3 separate regions of the Homo sapiens genome follow, and all the other regions are linked to region 3. Evidence: fine-mapped expression QTL. A gene starts in region 3. Each other region holds a variant in brackets. All regions are shown on one strand. Distances are between the middles of the regions. Region 1 overlaps MARCHF4 (membrane associated ring-CH-type finger 4). Region 2 overlaps XRCC5 (X-ray repair cross complementing 5). Region 3 holds the start of LINC01963 (long intergenic non-protein coding RNA 1963).

What was found. PIP is the estimated chance that this variant, and not a neighbour inherited with it, causes the effect.
Region 1: its variant is the best candidate, but not a certain one, in a credible set for the expression of LINC01963 in esophagus mucosa (GTEx, PIP 0.56).
Region 2: its variant is the best candidate, but not a certain one, in a credible set for the expression of LINC01963 in skeletal muscle (GTEx, PIP 0.65).

Annotation. Positions count from the first base shown.
Region 1 is chr2:216,258,855-216,263,166 of GRCh38, forward strand. MARCHF4 (membrane associated ring-CH-type finger 4) reads right to left here. Exons shown (of 4, transcript NM_020814.3): 4 at 1-825. The coding sequence ends at 458. Among named protein-coding and RNA genes, the nearest start is that of MARCHF4-AS1, 42 kb to the right of the region's middle. The variant T/A (reference allele first, on the strand shown) is at 2,625.
Region 2 is chr2:216,138,073-216,142,072 of GRCh38, forward strand. It overlaps XRCC5 (X-ray repair cross complementing 5), which reads left to right. Exons shown (of 21, transcript NM_021141.4): 12 at 17-107; 13 at 3,114-3,247. Among named protein-coding and RNA genes, the nearest start is that of XRCC5, 31 kb to the left of the region's middle. The variant C/T (reference allele first, on the strand shown) is at 1,680.
Region 3 is chr2:216,214,449-216,218,800 of GRCh38, forward strand. It overlaps LINC01963 (long intergenic non-protein coding RNA 1963), which reads left to right and starts at 2,441. Exons shown (of 1, transcript NR_037701.1): 1 at 2,441-4,352.

The sequences.
Region 1 (4,312 bases), 44 kb after region 3:
CTGGCTGCCTGCAGAACACAGCCCCAGGAGAAACAAAACCAAACAGGGTGAGAGCAGAGCAGACCACAGATGCTTTTCCTCTTGGCCCCCTTGGCCTCCGGCACTGCCACAGTCACACAGGCTTTGCCTGCCCTCAGCCTCTGCTTCTTCGGGTACCTTGCCTGCAGGTGCATTGGGGCAGGGTTTTTCTGTTGGGCCAGGTTCAGCCTGTATTGCACTTTGTTGTTGAGTTGGTGTTGGTTTTCATTGTTGTTGTGGAGAGTGGCATTGACTGATTGGAAATAGCAGAACTGCTCCTGCACCAGCCTCACTCCCGCTCTGACACTACCCCAGGGCTCCCGCCAGGTCCCCCACCCTCTGCCTGCTCCCTCTGTTGGCTCTGGGGGTGCCACTGCACCTCCCCACCCTGCTCCGGGCCCTCAGTGGTGGTCATGGCCTTCCTTCCGGGCCTCTGCTCTCACACTGTCGTGACTCTCATGACCAGCTCTCGGCTGCTGCCTGGGGGACTTCGCTGTTCATGAGGTCTCAAGTGACTCAGGATGTGCAGGATGGTATAAGCACAGTGGTGATGGGACAGAGGGCCTGAGGGGTGGCCGGCAGCCTGGGCAGGGCCCTGCTCAGGGGCAGGGGTGCCTGCGGTCTCCTCTTCCGAGGAGGGGATATTGGCCTGGGTGGATGAGGAGGTCCGGGGGTTGGTCCTGCCTCCTGCCTTTTGATCCTCCAGGTCTTTTGTCTTGTCATAGTTCAGCACTTTCCACTGCTGGTTGACAGCCTGCCACCGTTTAAAGATGCGGTACACCGAGGGTCCTTCATGGATGATGAGACCTGAGGCAGCAGGGAGAGGAGAAACAGAGGCCAAATGAGAGGAAGTGGGTCACGGCCAGGAGACCACAGTCTCTCTGAATCTATGCAAGGTATGGGCAATGGCTCCAGTGCTGAGCCATGGGAGGACCATCCCTAGATTCCCAGGCTCAGCAAGTTCCAGTAGGCAGAAGGTGGAGGGGCCACCAGACCGAGTCCATGAAATAGTTGAGCACCTTCAGGCAGTGCCTTCGCCCACTTCTACACCACCCCACCCCCTTCCTGCCTCGACAAAATCCAAATTCATCCACTAAGGCATAATATAAATATCTTTTCCTCCCTCTATTATGTATCCATGGCACCCAGTCCTTAGCAGATGTTGAATGAATTGTGTGCTTTTAAAGCACCACAAAAGAAAACCCATGGTTTCTCCACACCTGCTAAAGGTTGCTAGAAATCCCACTGGTTAACTCTTTGCATGGATACCCCAGTACTACTGAGATACAAACAGCCCTTTGATGCAGTTATATCTGCCAGAGGCAGTGATAGAGTTGGAAACAAGTTACACCAGGCAGCAAGGCAAATAAATAATCATTGTGTGCCTATTGTGTGCCAAGCACTGGGGATACTGCAGTCGGCAGGACACCCTCTGAGAGCTTACATCTTCATGGAGACACACAATAGACAAACAAACCAAAGTGACAATTTCAGGTGCTGACAATTGCCTTAAGGAAGATAACTGGGGTTAAATATCCACTGGCTGCAGGCACTGAGATCCTGTTTTAGCAAGGGTGGTGGGAAAGGCCTTTTGGAGGAGATCATATCTGAGTTGAGACTTAAGTGATGAACAGGAGAGATCCATGCAAAGATCTGGAGAGAGAGCACTTCGGTGGAAGGAACTCCAAGTGCAAAGGCCAGGAGCTGGGAATGGAATGAACAAGGTCAGAGAGAAGGTCAGTGTGACCAATACAGTGCAGCAGTGAGGAAGTGGAGGGAGGTAAGTTGAGCAGAGGCCAATGGATGGTAGGGTCTTATAGGCCATGGCTAGGGATTTGCATTCTATCCTGAGTATAATGGGAAGCTATTGACGGTTTCAGTAGGGGGAATGATGTGATCTGATTCACCCTTCATAAAGCCACCTGTGGCACCTGTGAAGAGGGCCAAGAGAATGAGTGGAAAGCCAAGCAGGAAGCAGTGATGTCATGCGGGTTGGAAATGGTGATAGCATTGACTAGGGTCATGGTGGTGGAGCAGTGAGAAACTGCTGGAGTCAGGCTGTGTGCTGGAAGTAGAGCTGAAGACTTGCTGACTCGCAGGGTGGGAGTGAAGAGAAAGATCTGGACAACTTCGAAGCTCTTGGCCTCAGCAGCTGCATGAATGGGAAGCCATTTCCTGAGAAGTGGAGGGCACCAGAGGCGGGCTATGGATTTGTGTGGTGGCTGCGGTGACCGGATTCATTTCCTATTGCTGCAGTGACAAAATACCACACATCTAGTAGCTTAAAATGGGATGCATGTTTCTCTTACAGTTCTGGAGATCAGAAGTCTAAAATCAGTCCCACTGGGCTGACGTGAAAGTGTCAGCAGGGCACCTTCTGGTTCTTTCTGGAGGCTTTGAGGGGGAAGAATCTGTCTTCTTGCCTTTTTTCAGCTTCTAGAAATTGCAATTTCTGCCTCGTTCTTGCATCACTCCAGCCTCTTTCTTCTGTTCTCACCTCTCCTACTACTCTTCTGTCATCAGATCTCCCTCTCCTTCTTGTAAGAACACTTGTGGCTACATTTAGGGCCCACCTGAATAATCCAGGATACTGTCCCCATTTCAAG[T/A]TCCTTAAATTAATCACATTGGCGAAGTCCTTTTCCATATAAGGTAACATTGACAGGTTCAGGGATTAGGACCTGGATGTCTTTGGGGCCCATGATTCAAGCCTATCAGAGTGATTACTAGCTACATTTTGGTCATGGTTAGTTTAAGGTGTCTGATAGAAATCTAACTAGAAGGGTCAGATGGGCAACTGGACATATGAGTCTGAAGCTTAGGGAGAGGTCTGGCCTGGAGATAGAAGCCATCATTGTAGAGGTAGAACTTGAAGACTTGGAAATGGCTGAGACCTCTTAGGGAAGAGAAGAAGGCCAAAGACAGAGCCCTGGACTTCAGGTGTTTAGAGGCTTGGTGGAGGCTTTGGTGGAGATAGGGCCAATGAATGAGGCTCAAAAGAAGCAACCAATGGGGTAGAAGCAAGACCAGCAAGTGTGGAGACCCAAAAGCCTAGGGAAGGATTCAGAAAGAGTGCAGTGACTCTTTACAATGTTATCAAGAGGTCAGCTTGAGTAAAATGGGAAATGACCACCAGTTCCATGGGCACAGAAGGAGGGAGAATGATAGAAATGACAGCAAGAAAATCAGGTAGTTCTCATCCAAGTACACATATATTTTTTTTCCCATGAAGTCATCAGCTAAGATAGAAGAGATAAGAGAGGAAGTGTTAAAGATTTGTGGAGAGAGGAGAAGGTGGGAAATAATTATCTCGGAAAGTAGGAGTGTGAATTTACAAGGGAGATGTGGTAGAATTAGCTCACTGTGTTAAGTATCCATTTGAGATTTGTAGCCATAAATCTGAAGTGAATCTAGTTACTGGTTGTGTGATTTTTCTCCACCCCTTCAAACTGCTTGCTCAGGTGCACATGTGGAAGAAGAAGAAACCTGGGCTTAATCAGGGTAAACGGTTTCCCTGGGCAAACAGACATGAGAATTATATGTACTTGCAAGAGAGTGATTATCAGGCTGGACCATGGAGCCCAGGCTGGGGATGAGAATACGAAAGGTATAAGGAATAATGAAAAGTGGAAAGTGAGAGAGTCAAGGCCAAGTCTTTATGAGGTTAGAGGATTATTGGAGTCAGTGAATGGGGGGTGATGGTCGGAGAGTGGGATGTTTAAATCCAGATTTTGGAGGTGGTGTGGTTACTAGCAATTATGAATCTAGGATGTGACTATTTGATTGGGGCTGGAGTGTGCTGGAGGAAAAGATCTTTGGAGCAGGGAATTGGAAAGACTATCTGCATCAGCCATCCTCAATGCTATCACACCAAACATCCCCTTTTTATAACAAATATATTTTAACATCATCATTCCCATCCTGAAATGAAATTCATAGCTACTATGTCTTTTAAATTAATATAATGCCCTAAAAGAGAATATAAAATAAAAATAATAAAGGGAAATCTTTTATAACAAAACAATATACATTTCAGTGAAAATGCTATGGTACAACTACATTAGGAAACGGACAAACAAATGAACAAACCCCAGATATTTCCAAATGCCTCCGGGGTACAGGCCCATCTCTGCCAAGCACTGATCTATGTAGTGCTGAGGACAGGAGTAGGGGGAGTGTATGAGCAGGTGCGTGAGGGTATCTGAGGACTGAGTAGGCAGCCAGTATCCAACAGCATCCAGAAGGGAAAATGGGTGGTAAAGAAAGATGCACTTCGCCTAGGCGCAGTGGCTCATGC
Region 2 (4,000 bases), 77 kb before region 3:
CTTTCTTTCTCATTAGTGTTTAGTGTATGTGCAGCTGCCTTTCATGGAAGACTTGCGGCAATACATGTTTTCATCCTTGAAAAACAGTAAGAAATATGCTCCCACCGGTGAGTTTGTTTTCATTTAGATCACTCATTGACTACACACACTGTTCTTGGGAAATCACCTGTCTGCTAGTTGTTGGTTGGGGCTAGGTATTTATAGGGTGCAATTAGTTGGATTTCCAATCATACACTTAGACACAGTAATGATGAAGGTGGTTTACTTGGTGTTTTTCCAGTAGTAGGGATAGGTTTGCCTTAAACTCACCCAACACTGTCTAGTTTTTGCCTTGGAGCATGTACCTAGGGGAAAGCTTGATGGTAATGGATGTCCATCTCTAGTTGTGAGCAGAGTTTGCCCCTGCCGAAGTGAATCTGAGCAGTATCAAACCTGTGACTTTAGTGTTCTGTGTAAAGTCTGATGTAGCTTTGAAATGAAAAGTGACAGTGCTGAAGATTAACTTTTCTCTTTGCCCTGTTTTTGTAGTTTGCACCAACAGTCCAAGTCTCATTGTTACTTATTTCTGGCTTTTAGGAGTTACTTCAGGCTTGATGTGAAAGCTCCTGATTGAGCATCTGGCTGCAAATGTCAGGGTCCTATATAGAATTATTCTTAGAGCCACAGGTCCAGTCTTCCAGAGAGCCTGTCATTTAAAACAATTGTAATAAAATATAATAGGGGGCAGAAGTAGAAAACATACCAAAAAGAACAACAAATGATGAGTAGATGTTTTAGGTTACAAGTTTATATATAATGTCTGTGTCTGTGTTAAGATTAGGGAATTGTGAGGTGAGTCTCGGAACTCAATTCTTTCTGTTATTTTGGCTAGACCCTTTGGAAGTAGTGTGCTATAGAAAGGCCAAGAATCAGATGGGTCCCTAGGGCCTGTATCTTTATCTTCCTTCTAGAAATGAGTCTGTCTGCATCACGGTGGAGGCAGGCATGGACCTGATTATATGGAAGTTGCCACTGTATTACAGTATTACTCTGTCTCTATTTCCTGATAATTCCAAAATTTAAATGAGTAGAATATTTAATTATTTATTTATTTGAGACAGGGTCTCACTCTGTCACCTGGCTGGAGTGCAGCGGCGTGATCATAGCTTACTGGAGCCTCAAACTCCCTGTGTATTAGTTCATTTTCATACTGCTGATAAAGACATACCCGAGACTGGGAAGAAAAAGAGGTTTAATTGGACTTACAGTTCCACATGGCTGGGGAAGCCTCAGAATCTTGGTGGGAGGCGAAAGGCACTTACATGGTGGCAGCAAGAGAAAATGAGGAAGAAGCAAAAGTAGAAACCCCTGATAAACCCATCAGATCTGGAGTGAATAAATCTATAGACTTATTCACTATCATGAGAATAGCACAAGAAAGACCAGCCCCTCTGATTCATTTACCTCCCCCTGGGTCTCTCCCACAACATGTGGGAATTCTGGGAGATACAATTCAAGTTGAGATTTGGGTGGGGACACAGCCAATTCTGGCTCAAGCAATCCTCTTGCCTCGGCCTCCTAAGTAGTTGGGACTACAGGTACGCGCCACCGTGGCTGGCTCATTTTTAAAATTGTTTGTAGAGATGGAATCTCACTATGTTGTTGTGGCTGGTCTTAAACTCCTGGGTTCAAACAATCCT[C/T]ACATCTCAGCCTCCCAAACTGTTGGAATTATGGGTGTAAGCCATCACGTCCAGCCCAGAATATTTTTAAAAACCCAGTTTATTGATAATTTATTTTGTCGACATAAATCACTCAGGATCTGAAACATTAAATATCTTCTGTTATCTATTTTCTGTGAGTTAACATTTGTTTACATTTTCTCCATTGGAAAAATGGAACATTAAAGTTATTTCATGTATTTCCCAGTAGATGTCTATGTAGGAATGCAATGCCAGGATGATCTGGCCTCCTGCTACCTTGTAGTAGTAGGTGAAAATCACTGAATGTTCACATGTACAAGTACTGCCCCCTACCTGTTGCTGGGAGGGCCTTGAATTAGCAAGTTCAAGATGGTGTTGGCTGTGCCATTGCCTGAAACCTCCATGGTTTCACCATGAAAAGTCCATAAATGGGTAAAAAAGAAATATCTGATGATAAATATCTGTATGCTCTTTTATTTTGTTGTAGCTGTACAAAAGGGATATTTGAAAAGGTGCAGAATAGAAGTATAATGTACTTTTTAGGAACTACTTACTCTTTTCCACCTTTTGCCTGGTGACTGTGAATGTTCCAGAAATAGTGCCTCAGGTTCAACAGCTGAACTGCTGTATGAATCAGTAAAATGAAAGTTACACACAGTAGTTTAGGCAGAAGTATTTTTGGGAGAATTGCCTTTCGTCCATATTGCTTTGGGCTGTACCATTTTTATTGACTGAGTAGATTTTTATTGAGGAGCACTTGTTTTTTATTAGTATTAGGAGAGACCTAAGGAAAGAGGATGTCGTATTTCTGCTCTCATGGAACTTGAGAGTTTGAATGGAGTAGGGCAAGACATGTACGCAGGTGTGAGTAGTGTCATGGAGGCATTAAGAGAGGAGAGAGCTTATTCAGCCTCAGTAGATTGTGAAGGAATCAGCTCACCCTGATCCAATGGTGTCTTCCTGTTAAGGTGCTGTACTCTGATAAAAGTTATATTAAAGTCATTAAAATGCTTATGCTTCATTACCAGAGAGGTTTTTTCTTTTTAATGTTTTTCTTCTTTAGCTAATTACTAGTTTTTAAAATATTAGCTCAATGGATACTAAATATTTTGTTCCAGTCTCCTTATAGGGATTGGTTTTTATATGGCTGTATTCCTCTGAAACAAACTTTCTTGCTTTTGATCTGATACTCCATTGTCAGAGGCTCACTGAATGGTAGAACTGGAACCTAATCAGTCAGTCACTCTAAATCGATCTTTTCATGGATAAGAAAACCAAGACTTGGGTTAAATACGTGCATAGCTAGAGAATACTTTGGCAGGGCCAGGACTGTATAACCTGCCAATATTGCCGTGGATATCTCTACGTAGAAAGCATTTGTTTTAGTGGAGAATAATGGAAATAATCATTTTTCTTTCGGCTTCTCTGTTTAAGAGGCACAGTTGAATGCTGTTGATGCTTTGATTGACTCCATGAGCTTGGCAAAGAAAGATGAGAAGACAGACACCCTTGAAGACTTGTTTCCAACCACCAAAATCCCAAATCCTCGATTTCAGAGATTATTTCAGGTAAGAGAAGAAGGATGAACAAGTCATATTTCTTTTAAATGAAAGAGAGCTAAGTGCAAAGTTGCGGTAATTGGCCAGTCCTAAATAAATGTCTTTTTTCTCTGAAGGCCCCATTTGCTCTATTTAATGGAAGAATAACATCTTCCTCTCCTACTTCAGAAGGTAAAAATATTCTGAGCTCTTAAAAAGAAAAATAAAGTTGGAATGCTTTCTTTCTTTTCTTTTTTTTTTTTTTTTTTTTTTTTTTCCTGGAAGAAGCTTACTTTAACAAAAAAAATACAGGAAGGCCAGTTGCCTATGCTGGAGTGCAGTGTTGTGATCATAGCTCACTATAGCCTCAAACTCCTGTGCTCAAGCACTCTTCCCGCCTCAGTCTCCTGAACAGCTGGGATTGCAGGCACATGCCACCATGCCTGGCTCATTTGTAAAAATTTTTGTGAAGACAAGTCTTGGCCACGTGCGGTGGTTCATGCCTGTAATCCCAGCACTTTGGGAGGCTGAGGCAGGTGCATCACTTGAGGTCAGGAGTTCAAGACCAGCCTGGCTAACATGGTGAAACCCTGTCTCTACCAAAAAATAAAAAAATTAGCCGGGCATGGTAGCACGTGCCTGTAATCCGAGCTTCTCAGGAGGCTGAAGTGGGAGAATTGCTTGAACCTGGGAGATGGAGAGTGGAGTTAGCCGAGATCACGACCCTGTACTCCAGCCTGGGCGGCAGAATGAGACCGAGTCTTTAAAAAAAAAGAAAAAAAA
Region 3 (4,352 bases):
CTACCTTCTTTCATAACTAACCTTTAAATAACATCCAAATTAAATAAAATTATTCTTTTTCTCCATAAGAACACATTTATTTGGCACATTTTATATATAGAATTCTATATTAACTAAAATTCTTACTCTTAGTAACCTTAAATTTTAGTGAAAACCTAGGAGGCAAGAAATATTGAATTGTCTGTTCTCTATCAGCACTTTAAAGATGAGAATCACGTCACAATTTTTAGAAACGTGTTTCTGGCCAAGCATGGTAGCTCATGTCTGTAATCCCAGCACTTTGGGAGGCTGAGTTTACATTCTCCCCTTTTAGCCAAGATGTGCCAGAGATGACATTGGTGACCAAACATTTATTTTTTCCCATATCTTTGCCGGGGTGGTGTGGCTACCTGCTGCAGGTTCATTCTGTTCTTTGGTGGGATCCTTATGGCCAAGGGACTTGGAGCCAATTAAACATTCTAGGCCAGATGAGGATGGAGGTGAACAGGCACTCATTAACCCTTAAAAACCTTTTGAGCAACAGAAGAGCCAAAAAGCAAGGTTACAACAGTGACTTACCTGTAAGTTCTATGTGACGAGTCATCAGCTGTTTAGTAACCTGTATGACCTGTTAACCATTTTTGTAGCCTGTGAATATCAGATGTTCATTTAAGTCAGAACCTTAAACATGTGGATATTTTTGCCAACAACTCAGAAGCTAACAAAACAGCTAACAACTTAGCTGTTTTCATTGAACCAACAATATTAAATTAGTCTTATTTGTCAAAAAATTCACACAAAGATCATTCTCTTTTTGACTGGGTTTATAGTCTTATAATCTTTTGTGCCAAATCCTGATACCTTAAAACACCTAGCGGAGGCAAATATAAAATAATCAGTAAACCCAGACTAAAAAAAAAATGTATGCTGACAATTCTGAAGACATTTCTAGTTTTATTTTACCAATAATTTTAAAACCATTTTATTTACCAGATTACTAAGTTCACATGAATCTGAAAAGTATTTGGACTTACTTAATTTATGAGTATAATTTACTTATAAACCAGTTTGGTACCATGCTAGATACAACACAACATAATACATGTTCATATACAAACATTTAAACACATACACACAAAGATCTTACAGCTTTTACTCTGGAACCTTAGCCATGAGATGGTAATACAGACTCACCACTTAACAAAAGACAGCTGGATCCAAATTATTTCTGACAAAATTGGGACCTGTTCACATGGCTAAACTTTATTTGTCCCAGTAGGTAATCCAATGAAGGCTATGGACCAAAGTCTTGGGAAAAGTAGTTTTCATGGCAGTTTTATTTTTAAAAACCTTTTACCCCTTTTTTTTTTCCTGAAGTTTCAAATGAGTTTTCAGTGTTTACATTTTAGCTACAATTGGCTGAACTGTAAAGAAAGCTCCAAGTAGCCTTGAATTAGTAGTATCATAAACAATGAGTTTTATCTTAACAGCAGTAGCTTAATAACAGCAAATTCAAAGCAGGCCGAAAACAAAAAAGAGATAGCTTTAGAAAACTCTACATTTTAATTGTATAGTTGCAGGTTGGGCATTTGAGCTCTGAATTTTCCTTGCTGTAATTTGCCCGTTCAGTTTTAAAATGTGCACAAGAACAGGCCACAATATGCAGCTAGCTGAAGTGCTGGAAAACCTGGCATGCCTTTGAACTTCTACAGGAGTTCCTGCCCCTAGTGGGTAAGTTACCTATTGCACTGACTTTATGAAGATATCTCTTCCAGTGCCCTTAGTGTGAGCATCCCCACAAACCTTATGAACCAGTTGAATCCAACCTGAATGCCTCTCCATAAGCCCGGAGCCCACAAATGCATTTTCTCCAGGGCCCTTGGATGGAGGGAATCAGGAAGGCCTCCTCCAAACCCAAGGCTAGGAGAGATGTTCCCTCCGGGGTCCAGGGAGGAGAACAGAAAGGACTGAGAAGAACTAGGAATGCCCTCCCAAACCCAAGGCCAGCAGGAGGGTCTCCTCCGGAGTTCCACAGATGGAGGAGGCCTAAAAGAAGAAATCAAGTCTGCAACCTAAAAGTGGGAGATCTTGGATTTTGATAGCACTTACCCAGATCCTTTCCCAGCATAGTCAGGAACAACTGGACTTTTTCAAAGGGACCTTGGCTGTACCTGGTGTCCTGGGTGACACAGGAAAAGGAATTCAGGGGCTGCTTCAGAATCCCATCTTTGCCAGATACGTTAACTTTAAAAAAAAAATCATAAGATACAAATTTAGAAAAATGGAGACACTATTTCTTAAGGGTGACAGCCTGCCAGGTGGCCATCCTGCAGGCCAGGAAGCACAGCCTCCTCCAGCAGAAGCCCAGAGACAGGCACCTCCAAGGAGGAGGGGTTGGGGTAGGAGTTTTATGCTTTTATGCTGAATGGGTTGGCTTAACACATATTCAACAGGTTACAGGAGGAGCTATGAATATTAATGAAAGTGGTCCTGATGCATGCATATTAAACATGCATCTTACATATGACACATGTTCACCTTGGGGTGGAGACTTAATATTTAAATATTGCAATCAGGCCCTATACATCAAAAGGTCTATTCAGGACATGAAGGCACTCAAGTATGCAATCTCTGTAAACCCGCTAGAACCAGTCATGGTCGGTGGGCTCCTTACCAGGAGAAAATTACCGAAATCACTCTTGTCCAATCAAAGCTGTAGTTATGGCTGGTGGAGTTCAGTTAGTCAGCATCTGGTGGAGCTGCAAGTGTTTTAGTATTGTTTATTTAGAGGCCAGTGCTTATTTAGCTGCTAGAGAAAAGGAAAACTTGTGGCAGTTAGAACATAGTTTATTCTTTTAAGTGTAGGGCTGCATGACTTAACCCTTGTTTGGCATGGCCTTAGGTCCTGTTTGTAATTTGGTATCTTGTTGCCACAAAGAGTGTGTTTGGTCAGTCTTATGACCTCTATTTTGACATTAATGCTGGTTGGTTGTGTCTAAACCATAAAAGGGAGGGGAGTATAATGAGGTGTGTCTGACCTCTTGTCCTGTCATGGCTGGGAACTCAGTTTCTAAGGTTTTTCTGGGGTCCTCTTTGCCAAGAGCGTTTCTATTCAGTTGGTGGAGGGGACTTAGGATTTTATTTTTAGTTTGCAGCCAGGGTCAGTACATTTCAGTCACCCCCGCCCAGCCCTCCTGATCCTCCTGTCATTCCTCACATCCTGTCATTGTCAGAGATTTTACAGATATAGAGCTGAATCATTTCCTGCCATCTCTTTTAACACACAGGCCTCCCAGATCTTTCTAACCCAGGACCTACTTGGAAAGGCATGCTGGGTCTCTTCCACAGACTTTAAGCTCTCCCTACACCAGAATTTAGGTGAGTGCTTTGAGGACATGAAGCTATTCCTCCCACCACCAGTAGCCTTGGGCTGGCCCACGCCAACTGTGGAGCTGGAGCGGGAGGGAGGAGTACAGACATGGAATTTTAATTCTGTAATCCAGGGCTTCAGTTATGTACAACATCCATGCCATTTGATGATTCCACCACTCCTTTTCCATCTCCCAGAAGCCTGCTTTTTAATGCCCGCTTAATATTATCAGAGCCGAGCCTGGAATCAAACTGCCTCTTTCAAAACCTGCCACTATATCCTGGCTTTGTGACCTCAGCCAAGTTGCTTGACTATTCTCAGTCTCAGTTTCTGCACCTGTCAAATAGGGTTTATGTTAACCTAACTTTCAGGGCTGTCAGGATTAAATGAGCATGAACCACATAAAATGTTTGGTGTATAGTAAGTGTACAGTAAATACTTCCATTATCAGTCCCTGCAATTCTATTTTTCTTCCTTCTCTACACAGCCCCTGTCTGGCTTTAAAATGTCCTGCCCTGCTTTTTATGAGTGGATACCCCCAGCCCTATGTGGATTAGCAAGTTAAGTAATGACACTCAGAGACAGTTCCATCTTTGTCCATAACTTGCTCTGTGATCCAGTGTGCATCACTCAAACAGACTATCTCTTTTCTCCTACAAAACAGACAGCTGCCTCTCAGATAATGTTGGGGGCATAGGAGGAATGGGAAGCCCGCTAAGAGAACAGAAGTCAAAAACAGTTGGGTTCTAGATGGGAGGAGGTGTGCGTGCACATGTATGTTTGTGTTTCAGGTCTTGGAATCTCAGCAGGTCAGTCACATTGCAGTGTGTCGCTTCACCTGGCTCCCTCTTTTAAAGATTTTCCTTCCCTCTTTCCAACTCCCTGGGTCCTGGATCCTCCAACAGTGTCAGGGTTAGATGCCTTTTATGGGCCACTTGCATTAGTGTCCTGATAGAGGCTTAATCACTGCTCAGAAACTGCCTTCTGCCCACTGGCAAAGGGA